4 linked regions of the Homo sapiens genome follow. The protein of the gene in region 4 purifies or fractionates together with the protein of the main gene of each other region. This does not show direct contact. Each region holds a gene or a part of one and is shown on either strand. Other genes may lie near its edges.

Region 1 (3,500 bases), on a different chromosome or scaffold from region 4:
GGGCGGATCACGAGGTCAGGAGATCAAGACCATCCTGGCTAACACGGTGAAACCCCGTCTCTACTAAAAATACAAAAAATTAGCCAGGCGTGGTGGTGGGCGCCTGTAGTCCCAGCTACTCAGGAGGCTAAGGCAGGAGGATGGAGTGAACCCGGGAGGCGGAGCTTGCAGTGAGCCCAGATCGAACCACTGCACTCCTGCCTGGGCGACAGAGTGAGACTCTGTCTCAAAAAAAAAAAAAAAAAAAAAAAGGCCGGGCACGGTGGCTCATGCCTGTAATCTCAGCACTTTGGGAGGCCGAGGCAGGTGGATCATCTGAGGTTGGGAGTTCGAGACCAGCCTGACCAACATGGAGAAACCCTGTCTTTACTAAAAATACAAAATTAGCCTTGTGTGGTGTCGCATGCCTGTAATCCCAGCTACTCAGGTGGCTGAGGCAAGAGAATAGCTTGATCCTGGGGGTCGGAGGTTGTGGTGAGCTAAGATCCTGCCATTGCACTTCAGCCTGGGCAATAAGAGCGAAACTCCGGTCTCAAACAAACAAACAAAAAACACCAAAGAAAAAAAAAAAACCAGCTGGGCTTCCTGCTGGCTCACACCTGTAGTCCCTGCTACTCAGGAGGCTAAGGGTGGGAGGAGGATTTCTTGAGCCTGGGAGTTTGAGGCTGCAGTCAGCTACGATTGTACCACTGCACTCCAGCCTGGGTGACAAAGTGAGACCCTGAGACCCTGTCTCTAAAAATAAAACAGAAAGCTGTTAAGCTGTTAAAAACAAAAACAAAAAAATATATATATATATAGTCAAGAAAACTCTGACCTCCAGCTCTTCTCTCTTACCACCTCCTATAGACTCTTGCAGAACTTGAGGTACCCTCAAACCTCAGCCCCTAGAGGAAACCCAGCTCAGCTGCCTGGTGCAGCGGGGAGGAAGTCTGTCCTGCTCTCACCTCTTCTTGACCCTGACCTGCAGTCCTTTACCAAATCCTGGTCACTGAAGTATTCAAATACTTGTCTGTCCTTCCCTTCTTGAATACGGTCACTGCCCACAACATGGGCCGCGTGGACAAGGACCATAGCCAACTGCTCATTGGCTTCCAGTAAATCCAGCCTTCAGCTATCTAATCCCTGGCCTGCTCAGAAACCCTCCATGACTCCCTATCACCCCAAGAAGGAAAGTCCCAGCTCCTCCACCTGGCATTCAAGGCTCTGCCAACCTCACCCTTCCTCCCATCAATCAATTTTTTTTTTTTTTTTAGGGGCAGTGTCTCTCTCTGTCACCTGGGCTGGAATGCAGTGGTGCAATCATAGCTGACTGTAACCTCAAATTCCTGGGCTTGACCAGGCTCAGTGGCTCACACCTATAATCCCAGCACTTTGGGAAACTGAGGCAGGAGGATCTCTTGCGGTCAGGCGTTCAAGACCAGCCTGGCTAACATGGTAAACCCTATCTCTACTAAAAATACAAAAAAATTAGCTGGGCATGATGGTGGGCACCTTAATCCCAGCAACTCGGGAGGCTCAGGCAGCAGAATCGGTTGAACCCAGGAGGTGGAGGAGGCTGCAGTGAGCCAAGATGGCACCACTGCACTCCAGCCTGGGCCACAGAGTGAGACTCCATCTCAAAAAAACAAAAACAAAAACAAAAAAATTCCTGGGTTCAAGTGATCCTCCCACTTGAGCCTCCAGAGTAGTTGAGAATACAAGCATATGCCACTGTACCCTAATTTTTTTATTTTTTCTTAGAGACAGGGTCTCGCTATGTTGCCCAGGCTGGTCTCGAACTCCTGGGCTCAAACAATCCTCTTGCTTTGGCCTCCCAAAGCACTGGGATTACAGGTGTGAGCCACTGCACCTGGCCTACACCAACCTACCTCCTCCTCCTCCTGCCTCCATCAAGATTTCTCCCTGCTCCCAACTTTTGCCCAGGCTGTTCCTCCTGCCCAGAATGCCTGTCCTTATGAACTCCTACACATCCTTCAAAGCCCAGCTAGTGGTCGCCTCCTCTAGGAATTACACCTCTAACCTTTTTGGAGAAGATTGAGCCATCCAGGGAGGCTTCTTTATGTTTACACCAGGGGTGGGGCAAGACCAAGCTAGAGTCTCTCTCAGGTACCACCCTCCCACATAACTTTTACTCCTTTGCTACCTGTGCCAGCCATCTGCTCCATTTCACAGAGGTAAAAACTAAGGCAAAGTGGGGCACCCACAGTCATAGAGGGAGAAATGTGGCAGAGCCAGGTCTCAAACCTGGAGTTCTATGCTCTCAGCTATCAGGCAGAGCCGCGCGTGGTGGCTCAAGCCTGTAATCCCAGCACTTCGGGAGGCTGAGGCGGGTGGATCACCAGAGGTCTAGAGTTCGAGACCAGCCTGGCCAACTTGGCGAAACCCTGTCTCTACTAAAAATACAAAAATTAGCCAGGCGTGGTGCCAGGTGCCTGTAATCCCAGCTACTGGAGAGGATGAGGCAGGAGAACTGCTTGAACCCGGGAGATGGAGGTTGCAGTGATCCAGCCTGGGCGACAGAGCAAGACTGTGTGTCAAAAAAAAGAAAAAAAAAAAAAAAAAAAAAAAGACCTATCAGGCAGAGATGCAGAAAAGACCTTCAAAGAGGTTTCCCTGGGGTTTCCAGAAGCTGCTGGGAATGTTCGGGGACTTCCCTCACCTGGGAAGGTCAGCATCTGCTCACCCACCCTCCAAATCAGAAGCAAAGCTGATCATTTGATCATTTACCCAGAGGCTTCCTTGCCCTGACACAATGATAGGAGAACATCCTTTGTCACTCACCGTGTCATTTTCCCCATCAGAGGAGGTCTCACCTGATTGCAAAGTAAATGCAGAAGTCATGTCCCAAGCTATTAAAGGCCTTGCTGGGACTGGAACCCAAGGCTAATCCCAAAGCTACTTGGCCAGTTTTTATTTTTTAGAGACAGGGTCTTTCTCTGTCACCCAGGCTGGAGTGCAGTGGTGTCATCACGGCTCACTACAGCCTGGACCTCCCAGGCTCAGGTGATCCTCCCACCTCAGCCTCCTGAGTAGCTGGGACTACTAGTATGCCAGCACGCTTGGTTAGGTTTTTTATTTTTTGTAGATATGGGGTCTTGCTATGTTGCCCAGGCTGGTGTCCAACTCCTGGCCTCCAAGCGATCCTTCTACTTCGGCCTTCTAAATCACTGGGATTATAGGCATGAGCCACGTGCCTAGCCTGCCCAGTGCTCTTCTGTTTTTTCTTCTTTGATTTTGTTTTGTTTTCATTTGAATTCCTTATTTTGGCCTTGATAACTCTTTCCCACCATTCGAAGTCCCCAAAGTAGGAAGGACGCAAAGAGAAATTCTCGGCTGGGGGCAGTGGCTCACGCCTGTAATCCCAGCACTTTGGGAGGCCGAGGCGGGCAGATCACAAGGTCAGGAGATCAAGACCAGCCTGGCCAACATGATGAAATCCCGTCTCTACTAAAAATACAAAAATTAGCCGGGCGTGGTGCTGGGCGCCTGTAATTCCA
Region 2 (3,500 bases), on a different chromosome or scaffold from region 4:
TCCCTGCACCACAGCGGTGAGTATGGATGATAACGGAGAGCAGGGGAGGGCAGAAAGTGAGTAAGTGCTGCCTCAGGAAACTCTTACCGCCTGTCCTTAATGAAGGAATAGTAGTGGCCTGCGTGTGCCTGCCCACTGTGTACGATGACACCGACAAGTTCATAGTTTTCTGTGAGGGCAACCTTTTTTCGTGGGGATCCTCCACCGCCCTGATCCACACTTCGCCCATTTTCCCCAACTTCAGAAGAAGAATCTTGGCGAGCCATTCCTGAAACTGTGTAAGGCTCCATGTTTAGCATCCAGGGAAACTATGTAGAAGCAAAAAGACCATATTAACGTTGATTACTAACATATACAGCAGTACCCAGTTAAGTGAGATCCAAATAAGAGGAAGTGTTTTCCTAGTTTAAGCTAGGAACAACTACCTCACCAGTTCAAGTATAAAATCTCAGAAATGTTAAGTCTGGGAACGTCTAAAGTAGCCTCTGGTTTGAGCCCTAAGGAAGGCATTTTCCTTCATAGTAATCACTAGGATGCCTTCTAGAAATGAGGGCCACTGTTTCCAGATCTGCCTATTCCGGTAACAGCAGCTGCCTAAGATAAGGGGCTCTTCATAATGCTGAGACAACAGCCTTAACATGGTAGACAGAATATGAAAATTGAAAAAGGAAAAAAAAAGAAGTGAGTGAGGAAATGAATGGTTGTGAAAAATTTCAGGAAGAAAAAAAGTTACCCTTATTTGTTCATCATATTTAATGGAGCGTCCGCTTTCCCAGTCAAACCCAAATCTCATTAGGTGAATTACCAAGACGCTAGGTAAAGATTTAATACAGGTCCTTTTCACTGTTATTCTCTAAAGAAAAAAAAAAGGAAAAAGAGCAAATCTGAATGATCTCCATGGAGAAAATAAAACAGCACAGTAATTAATGCAAAGGCCTTTCTGATCCATGTGAAAACAAGTAATGACACAATCTAATGGAAATAACAGTAGGAGCTTAATACTGATTTTACATAAAACAAAGACGCACTATGCGAATAACAAATTAATCTTGTTTTTTAAAAAGGGCAAACATAATACCTTTTCTTTACACTTTTCACAGTAGTACGCATTACTTCCTTCTAGAACTTCTCCTCTAACAAATTGGTCCAAAGAAATTTCCAAACTCTGACAAGAAGTCACTCCTAGATTGAGAGCCATGAAAGCTTCTTCACGCTCATATCTGATTAGGAAATAACAGAAAACCCACAATCAACAATGGAATTTAAAACTCTTCAATTATCATAATACCTAAGCTTGAACACAGAACTACATTTTTAATCTGGGAGTCCCTCAATATTTTAAAAGTCCATTACTAAGTTAAAATGCCACTTTGTGACAATTAAGAATTGCCTAAAATTATGAATTTCAATGAATATTTTCTTAAGCCCACAAAGAAATTTTTTCTCCTTCTGGAAGTAGAAAGCAAAGAAATTTAAGTCACTAAATACTTATAGATCTGTTGACAGGGAGAGAGTTCTAAGTCTCTTAACAAATGCAAAATTTACAACATACTAAACAAATCACTTCAAAAGGATGATCATTTTTCCTGTGTCGGTGATATCTTCACTCACCTGTGAGGACAGTCTTTACAGATCTTCTGATCAGAGTAGATGCCCTGAAATGTATTCTTAAAAATTTGGTCTCTCCCCATTTTCTGTTGGAATGAAAAGTTACAGTTTTAAGTGATGCCTCCTGAACTTATGAGTATACAGAATTTTATTAACACATTGCAATTTAAGGACCAAAACAAAACGCGTCATTCTGGTAGTATCAGCTGTGGTGAATGGAGGCTAAACCCATTATTGGCCCCACTGTCAGAGTGATGCAGACGATCAGAAGAGGAAGAGGAGGAGGGATGGGTCAGGTAGAGCTAATGACAAGAGAGTGTTCTCCAGGGTGATTCTGAATCCTTCTCCCTGTGCTACAAGGACCAAGTTAGGGGCAACTCTCAGCAATCTTTTCTTTTTTCTTGTGGATAGAATGCCATCAATTTGCAAGTTACTTTAAAAAATGGAAGAATTGTGCCTACTGATGAGAGGCCAATGCTGGCAGTGACAGCGGGATCTGAGAAGGCAATACCGTTTAGGAAGTCTGCCACATGGCTTACAGGGTAGAGGTAGAGAGCTTTGGGTTTCAACAGCACCACGAATAACTTTTTAATCTGGCTCCTTTCTCCCCTGTGCCAGAGCACTCTCTGCTCTGCACAGGGCCATCAGCTCACCAGTGACTGCAGCACTCTTCTGAGGCCAGATTATTTCAGTAGACACACAGAAAGAATATGTAGGTAGGAATGGTTATTACTATGTAGTAGAGATTAAGAGTTACATACTTTACTGAGCGTTAGATGAATTAAGAAAATATGCAATTCTAGGCCAGGCATGGTACCTCAAGCCTGTAATCCCAGCACTTTGGGAGGCTGAGGTGGGTGAATCTCTGGAGGCCAGGAGTTTGAGACCAGCCTGGCCAACATGGCGAAACCCAATCTCTGCCAAAAAGTACAAAAATTAGCCGGGCGTGGTGGTGCACACCTGTGATCCCAGCTACTCGGGAGGCTGAGGTGCAAGAATCTCTTGTACCTGGAAGGTAGAGGTTGCAGTGAGCTGAGATTGTGCCACTGCACTCCACTCTGGGTGACAGAGCGAGACTCTGTCTCAAAAAAAAAGAAAAGAAAAAAAAGAGAAAATATACAATTCTATTGATCTGTGTTATGTTTTGATGTTTAAACACAGAATACATTATAGTTCTTATGTTAAAGATAATCAATTTCTGATTCGTCAGTTTCATAGTAACCCCAAATGCTAAGACACTATTCTCATACTATAATTAGAGTTTGAGGGAGTTAGAGGGAAAGTACAACTTTTACTACCTTGAGGTATTCATCCATCTGATCAATGAGACTAGTAAAGAATTCATATGCATCCTGCTGTTCTCTCACATAAAGTTCTTTATTCCACATCTTGAAAATCTATATAACAAAAATTAAATGTTTTTAAAGGAAAAGTAGCAATTTCTGAATGTGGTAGAAAGGGAACATGAAAGAGCACTTAAATGCTTATAAAAATCAGGTTCACTATTAGGATGTGGACATTTCTAGTGAAGTGAGACTAGCTTGTATTCAGCCATCCACCCTTTTTTCTAGTCCCCTTACAATCATAACAAGTCTCTGAAATCAAAAGTGGGTACTGGGTAAGATCTAGGCCATGGAACAGAGAATTTCTCTCTTAGAAACAAATCAACCTATGGGGAAAAACACAAGGTGATCCTCCAATATGTGAAACACAGTAAAGCAATGTTTAAAAATAGTATTCTTGGCCGGATGTGGTGTCTCACGCCTGTAATCCCAGCACTCTGGGAGGCCGAGGCAGGCGGATCACCTGAGGTCGGGAGTTCAAGACTAGCCTGACCAACACGGAGAAACCCCATCTCTACTGAAAACACAAAATTAGCCGGGCATGGGGGT
Region 3 (3,500 bases), on a different chromosome or scaffold from region 4:
ACCAGCCTGGCCAACACGGTGAAACCCTGACTCCACTAAAAATACAAAAATTAGCCAGGCGTGGTGGTGTGCGCCTGTAGTCCCTGCAACTCAGGAGGCTGAGGCACAAGGATTGCTTGACCGCGAGGTGGAGGTTGCAATGAGCCGAGACTGTGCCATTGTACTCCAGCCTGGGTGACAGAGCGAGACTCTCTCAAAAACAAACAAACAAAAAACAAAAAAACAAAAAATAACTACAATACAAACTCCTCAAATAAAGTAGTCCATCTGTATTGTCCAATATGGTAGCCACTAGTCACATGTGGCTGCTTAAAATTAAATTGAAATTAAATAAAATTTAAAATTCGAATCTTCAGCTGCACTAGCCACAAGTCAAATGCTCAACAGCCACTAGTTTGTGGTTATCATATTGGACAGCAGAAATATAGAACATTTCCCTTATCACAAAAGTTCTACTGGCCAGTCCCGGACTCTACACTAGTTCAAGAGGCCAGGCACCGTGGCTCACACCTGTAATCCCAGCACCTTGGGAGGCTGAAGCAGGAGGATCACTTTGAGCCCAGGAGTTAGAGACAAGCCTGGGCAACATAGCAAGACCCCACCTCTACTAAAAATACAAAAATTAGCCAGGCGTGGTGGTGCATGCCTGTAGTCCTAGCTAGAATCCCTTTAACCCAGGAGGCGGAGGTTGCAGTGCACTGCACTGCAGCCTGGGTGACAGAGTAAGGCTCTGTCTCAAAAAAAAAAAAAAAGGCCCATTAGAGACGGCAACCAAATATTAACTGTTTTTCATTATGAGGAAAGAAATACAAATGTGAATGCTGGAAGGATGGAGGATGAAACTCCCTCCATCTCCACACTATGCAGCCTAGCAGCCCACTCTATTAACATTCAATGACTGGCGGACTACTGCCCACATGACTGTCCAAAGGTTATGCCTGCATGGCAGGAACTTTAGTCCTTAAGACTCAAAGTCCAGTACTCTAAGGTAGAAGATAGGAATTTAAATTTTTCAAATGATAAACGTTCTTATTGTTCTATCCTGGAAACACATGACCATCCATAAACCACAAATTCTTATCTCCTTCGTGATTCTGGGAGAGGTACTGATTAGATGGTTCACTCTCTCCTGCTTTGCACCAAAACTCTGACAACTGGTTCCTCATGGGGGTTCTCATTAAAGAACCAGCCCAGCCCACAGTCCCCTCCCTGCTTTGGCCACCTGGGCAGCACTGTGGGAAAGAGAATTCAGCCCAGCCAGGCTGGTCCTGTGGGTGGAGGATCAGAGAGAACCAGAAAGCCGTGCTACCTGATTCTCTAGAGAAGTGACAGGCAGAGGAGGGACAGGCAGGCAGATCAGTCCGAGGCTCAGCTGGAAGGCAGGGGGGTTGTGTATCCTGTGGTACAGCTTTTAACAAATCATGCTGGCCAAGAAGCAAGGTGATGAAACATGTCACACATACACTGACCTGGCAACATCAGCCTCTTTTGTCAGGATGGGGGCTGTGGTGATAGTCTGGAATAACCGCCTGCTTGAAATCATGTTTAAAACAAGACAGCCCTACAGAAATACAAGCCAGTCTCCTGCTGGATAAAACAGGAGCCAAAAGCCACTTGACCCTTTACGTTTAAGGAGCCCAAAGTCTTCAGGCTCTAGTGGAGCCCACAACAGGCTTTGATTTGAACGTTTCTCACTGAATTAGCATGAGTACATGTAACTGTCATCAGCCAGGTCACCCCTCAAAGGTGAAGTGCTAGAAAGAGCATCATGTAAGTGACTATTTGCCACATGGCTGAAAGGAATTAAAATAGCCCTCTATTGGTGTGCTATATAGCAGATGGAAAAAATAGAACCTCAGCACCCAAAACATTCTCCTGTTGGCCAAACTTGCACTTTTAAATAAGAGGAAAAGCAGGGAGATCAAAGACAGTTTTGCCTTTCTTTTTTTGTTCTTTCTTTCTTTTTCTTTCTTTCTTTCTTCTCTCTCCTTCCTTCTTTCTTTCTTTTTTTTGAGACAGGGTCTCCCTCTGTTGCCCAGGCTAGAGTGCAGTGGCACGATCTCAGTTCACTGCAACCTCTGCCTCTGGGGTTCAAGCAATTCTTGTGCCTCAGTCTCCCCAAGTAGCTGGGACTACAGGTGTGCACCATCATACCCGGCTAATTTTTGTATTTTTAGTAGAGACAGGGTTTTGCCATGTTGGCCAGGCTGGACTTGAACTCCTGGCCTCAAATGATCTGCCTGCCTCGGCCTTCCAAAGTGCTGGGATTACAGGCATGAGCCACTGTGCTCAGCCTGGGGTTTTGCCTTTCTAAATGAGGTGAAGTGGCCAGATGCAGTGGCTCAGGGCTGTAATCCCAGCACTTTGGGAGGCCCAGGTGGGCGGATTACCTGAGGTCAGGAGTTCGAGACCAGCCTGGCCAACATGGTGAAATCCTGTCTCTACTAAAAATACAAAATTAGCCAGGTATGGTGGCAGGCATCTCAGTAATCTCAGCTACTCAGGAGGCTGAGGCAGGAGAATCGCTTGAACCTGGGAGGCAGAGTTTGCAATGAGCTGAGATCGAGCCATTGCACTCCAGCCTGGGTGACAGAGCGAGACTCCGTCTCAAAACAAAACAAAAAAAAAGGAGGTGAAGTTGGTCTACAGTACTTTCCAACTGCAGGAACAAAGTTGATGTTAAACAAAAAAATGAGCCCTGTTAATAAACACTGGCAGGCTTTGGCAGGACAAGACTTCTCACTCCCAGCACAAAGTCTAGCATTCAGGGTCCTTGTGCACTGATCCACATCTTCTTTCTAGCCAGAATCTCCTTCCCAGAGACCTCAGTAGCCCAGGAAGATAAACACCAGAAAAAAGGATATATGGTAAAGCCACACTCAGAATTTCATAGTTAAAAGTAAAATACAGTTTTGTTTAGTACTTTATCTAAATAAAACAAAAATCGAATCTATCTATTTTAAAAGCAATAGTAAATACCAAGCAAAATTTAGGTTACAATTACATTTCTGTGCTTTTTTTTGCTTTTTTTTTTAATTTGAGACAGGGTCTTGCTCTGTTGCCCAGGCTAGACTGTAGTGGCGCACTGCAGCCTCGACCTCCTGGGCCCAAGTGATCCTTCCACCTCAGCCTCCTGAGCAGCTGGGACCACAGGCATGCACCACCACGCCCAGCTAATTTTTCATTTTTTGCAGAGATGGGGTCTCTCTATGTTACCCAGGCTGTTCTCGAACCCCTGGCCTCAAGCAATCCTCCTGCTTTGCCCTCCCAAAGTGGTGGGCAGGCACGAGCCACCATGCTCAGCCCTGTGCGAATTCTTAGAACAAAGACTTCATTTTGTGTAGACTCTTTTACGGTATGATAAGTCCTTCCAATTAACATTTGGTCATCACTGTGCTATCATAAAGAAGCCATTTTTGCAAAAATATCTTATGGCCTCACTGATTTCTCAAGGGCCTCTCAATTGTTTGATTTTCAAGTCTCTCCCCTAAAGGAGTGTT
Region 4 (3,985 bases):
CCAAAAATCCATACTCAGGCCAGGTGAGGTGGCTCATGTCTGTAATCCCAACCCTTTAGGAAGCCAAGGTACGCGGATCACCTGAGTTCAAGAGTTCGAGACTAGCCTGGCCAACATGGTGAAACCCCATCTCTACTAAAAATACAAAAATTAGCTGGGCGTGGTGGTGTGTGCCTGTAATCCCAGCTACTCAGGAGACTGAGGCAGGAGAATCGCTTGAATCCAGGAGGCAGAGGTTGCAGTGAGCCAAGATCACGTCATTGCACTCCAGCCTGGGCAAAAAGAGTGAGACTCCACCTCAAAAAAATAAATACATAAAAAATAAACAAAATTAAAGTTTTTTTTTTTTGAGATAAAATCTCACTTTATCACCCAGGCTGGAGTGCGGTGGTGCAATCTCAGCTTACTGCAGCCTCACCCTCCCTGGTTCAAGCAATCCTCCTGCCTCAGCACCCCTAAGTAGGTGGGACTACAGGCACCCGCCACCACACCCAGCTAATTTTTGTATTTTTGGTAGAGACAGGGTTTCACCATGTTGCCCAGGCTGGTCTTGAACTCTTTGGCTCAAGTGATCCACACAGCTCGACCTCCCAAAGTGCTGGGATTACAGGCGTCAGCCACTGCACATGGTCTAAATAAATTTAAGAGACCTATCAACCTATTACAATGGGTAGACTTTATTCTGATTCTGATTTCAGTAAACAAAGTTAAAAAAAAAAGAGTAAGATAACAGGAAACTAGAATAGCAACTAGAGATCAGAGGATATTAAGGAATTATTGATTGCTTTTGCTTTATGAATTTTTCAAAGAATCTTTATCTTTTAGAAATACATTTTGAAATGGATTAAGTATGATGATGTCTTGAATTTGCTTCAAAATCACAAGAGTGGGGGTGGGGGGGGAGGGCACAGATGGTACAAGATTGGCAGGGAACTGGGGATTCGGAAGCTGAGTGATGAGTACAAAACATTACACTTTTTTTTTTTTTTAAAGAGACAGAGTCTTACACTGTCACCTAGGCAGGAGTGTAGTGGTACAATCCTAGTTCACTGTAGCCTTTAACTCCTGGGCTCAAGGGATCCTCCTGCCTCAGCTTCCTGAGTAGCTGGGACTACAGGCATGTGCCACCACACCTGGCTAATTTTCATATTTTTTGTAGAGACAGAGTCTCTCTATGTTGCCTAGGCTGGACTCAAACTTCTGGCCTAAAGCAGTCCTCCCACTTCGGCCTCCCAAAGCACTGGGATGATAGGTGTGAGTGACCACAGGCGCCCACTCAGCATTACACTATTCTCTCTGCCACTGTGTATGAATGTTTCCATAACAGATAATTTGTTTTGTTTTGTTTTTCAGACAGAGTCTCACTCTGTCACCCAGGCTGGAGTGCAGTGGAGTGGTTTTGGCTCACTGCAACCTCCGCCTCCCAGGTTCAAGCAATTCTCCTGCCTCGGCCTCCCAAATAGCTGGGATTACAGGTGCCCGCCACCACACCTGGCTGATTTTTGTATTTTTTGTAGAGACGGGGTTTCACCATGTTGCCCAGGCTGGTCTTGAACTCCTAACCTCAAGTGATCCACTTGCCTCAGCCTCCCAAAGTGCTGGGGTTACTGGCATGAGCCAGTGCGCCTGGCCCATAATAGATAACTTTTTAATCCCTTCCCCAAATTCCCAACAACCTGAGTGTCCAACACTGTGGAACTGGTTAAATTATGGCCCAGCCATGTGATGGAGCATTATGCAGCTATGAAAAATGATGGCTCAACATTTAATGATGTGGAAAATAAGCCTCATCTCAGTTTCTGAATAAGTCAATGACTTACATCACTGCAAGTGATCTAGGAATTATGAGCTATCAGGAACCTGAGGAGGCAAATAAATCATTAAAATGATAGAACACAAATTGGATATAATCACTACCGCGTAGGCACAAGGAACAGCCCTATAGAAGAAAGAAGGCCATTTCCCAGCAGAGCTAATAGAAAGGGGGATCATATCATGCGAGGGCTCTTGTCACTTTGACAAGCTTGTCATGGAAATAATATGACATGGTGATTTGCAAAAGAGGACTGTGAAAAATTAGACAACGGATCAGCATTCACCATGGGACATGTCAAGGTACACGTCAAACATTTCTATGATGGAAATATTGGCCAGGCGCGATGGCCCACACCTGTAATCCCAGCACTTTGAGAGGCTGAGGTGGGTGGATCACAAGGTCAGGAGTTCGAGACCAGCCTGTCCAACATGCTGAAACCCCATCTCTACTAAAAGTACAAAAATTAGCCGGGCGTGGTGGCAAGCACCTGTAATCCCAGCTACTTGGGAGGCTGAGGCATGAGAATTGTCTGAACCCAGGAGGCAGAGGTTGCAGTGAGCTAAGATCACGCCACTGCACTCCAGCCTGGGAGACTCCATCTTGGAAAAAAAAAAAAAAAGAAATATTAATAACAGTGATAGTTCCTTTATAAATTGGTTTTAATTATATAATTTCTGTGTGACTCAGTTTACTGAGTGTTAAGTTTTGTAAGTGTTCAATTCTTTTAAAATCACTCTGGACACTAAAATGTTCACTGTGATTATATCTGAGTCATACATAAGGGGTTTTTTTTAAAATAAACTTTTTAATTGAGGTTTTCTCATTAAACATATTTTCAATGTCTCTTCAATGAAAAAGGATTTCTTGTGAAAAATAATAATAATAATAACAGACGCTTCAAAACAGTGTAGGCCTGGCCAGGCATGGTGGCTCACGCCTGCAGTTCCAGCACTTTGGGAGGCTGAGGTGGGTGGATCACCTGAGGTCAGGAGTTCGAGACCAGCCTAGCCAAGATGGTGAAACCCCATCTTTACTAAAAATGGAAAAATTAGCCAGGCGCCATGGTGGCAGGTGCCTATAGTCCCAGCTACTCGGGAAGCTGAGGCAGGAGAATTGTTTGAACCCAGGAGGCAGAGGCTGCAGTGAGCTGAAATCATGTCACTGCACTCCAGCCTAGGTGATGGAGTGAGACCCTGTCTCAAAAAAAAAAAAAGAAAGAAAGAAAGAAAAAAACAGTGTAGACCTCCTAAACAAAATGCCAACAAATCAAATTTTATGATACATAAAAAAATAACACATCACAGCAAAGTGGAGTTTATTCTAAGAATGCAAGGTGACTTAGCATTCAAAAACCAATCTATGGCTGGGTGCAGTGGCTCACACCTGTAATCTCAGCACTTTGGGAGGCCGAGGTAGGAGGATCACTTGAGGTCAAGAGTTCCAGACCAGCCTGGGCAACATAGTGAGACTCTATCTCTACACTACAGAAAAAAAACAAAACAAAACAAACAAACAAAAAAAACACTTTTTTTTTTAAATTAGCCAGATATGGTGGCAAATGTCTGTAGTCCCAGCTACTTGGAAAGCTGAGGGCTGAGGTGGGAGGCTCGTCTGAGTCTGGGAGGTTGAGGCTGCAGTGAGCCATGACCTGGTGGCTGGGTAACAGAGTGAGACCCAGTCGCAGAAAAAAAAAAGAAAGAAAAAGAAAAAGTGATGGATATCACTTCCAAGATTATGCTATAAAAAGACACTGGCTTTCATCCTGGCTCTCTTTCTCTCCTTCTCTCTTGGAAAGCTCTGAGGGAAGCCGGCAGCCATATTGTGAGGCAGCCCTGTGCAGGTGTCTACATGGCAAGGGAACAAGGCTGCCAAACCACATGAGTGAGCTTGGAAGCAGGTCATCACCAGCCAAACCTTCAGATGAGACCACAGCCCTGGCCAATGGCTGACAAGTATCCCAATTTTCCCGGGACTGAGAAGTTTCCTAGAACAGGGAACTTGCACTGCTAAATCCAGGATAGACCTGGGCAAACCCTATTGACAGCTGAACTGCATACTCCTGAGAGTCCTTGAGCCAGAGGCACCCAGCTTAACTGTGCCAAATTCCTAATGTTTGTTCTTAAGCTGCTGTTTGTGGTAATGTAATATGTAGCAATGGATAACTAACCT

Evidence for each region. The genes of interacting proteins can lie anywhere in the genome.
Region 1: the proteins of NCS1 (region 4) and ICAM1 purify together in Homo sapiens (affinity purification with mass spectrometry; 2 studies listed by BioGRID and IntAct, with this or other methods). This does not show direct contact.
Region 2: the proteins of NCS1 (region 4) and USP24 purify together in Homo sapiens (affinity purification with mass spectrometry; 2 studies listed by BioGRID and IntAct, with this or other methods). This does not show direct contact.
Region 3: the proteins of NCS1 (region 4) and ABHD6 purify together in Homo sapiens (affinity purification with mass spectrometry; 2 studies listed by BioGRID and IntAct, with this or other methods). This does not show direct contact.

What each region holds. Positions count from the first base shown.
Region 1 is NC_000019.10:10,277,620-10,281,119, reverse strand, and holds part of ICAM1 (intercellular adhesion molecule 1 precursor), read right to left. Parts: intron 1-3,500. UniProt on the Homo sapiens protein: ICAM proteins are ligands for the leukocyte adhesion protein LFA-1 (integrin alpha-L/beta-2).
Region 2 is NC_000001.11:55,096,865-55,100,364, forward strand, and holds part of USP24 (ubiquitin carboxyl-terminal hydrolase 24), read right to left. Parts: intron 3,006-3,500; coding exon 2,907-3,005; intron 1,695-2,906; coding exon 1,612-1,694; intron 1,221-1,611; coding exon 1,079-1,220; intron 854-1,078; coding exon 734-853; intron 309-733; coding exon 88-308; intron 1-87. UniProt on the Homo sapiens protein: Ubiquitin-specific protease that regulates cell survival in various contexts through modulating the protein stability of some of its substrates including DDB2, MCL1 or TP53.
Region 3 is NC_000003.12:58,244,292-58,247,791, reverse strand, and holds part of ABHD6 (monoacylglycerol lipase ABHD6), read right to left. Parts: intron 1-3,500. UniProt on the Homo sapiens protein: Lipase that preferentially hydrolysis medium-chain saturated monoacylglycerols including 2-arachidonoylglycerol. Through 2-arachidonoylglycerol degradation may regulate endocannabinoid signaling pathways.
Region 4 is NC_000009.12:130,227,716-130,231,700, reverse strand, and holds part of NCS1 (neuronal calcium sensor 1), read right to left. Parts: intron 1-3,985. UniProt on the Homo sapiens protein: Neuronal calcium sensor, regulator of G protein-coupled receptor phosphorylation in a calcium dependent manner. Directly regulates GRK1 (RHOK), but not GRK2 to GRK5. Can substitute for calmodulin. Stimulates PI4KB kinase activity.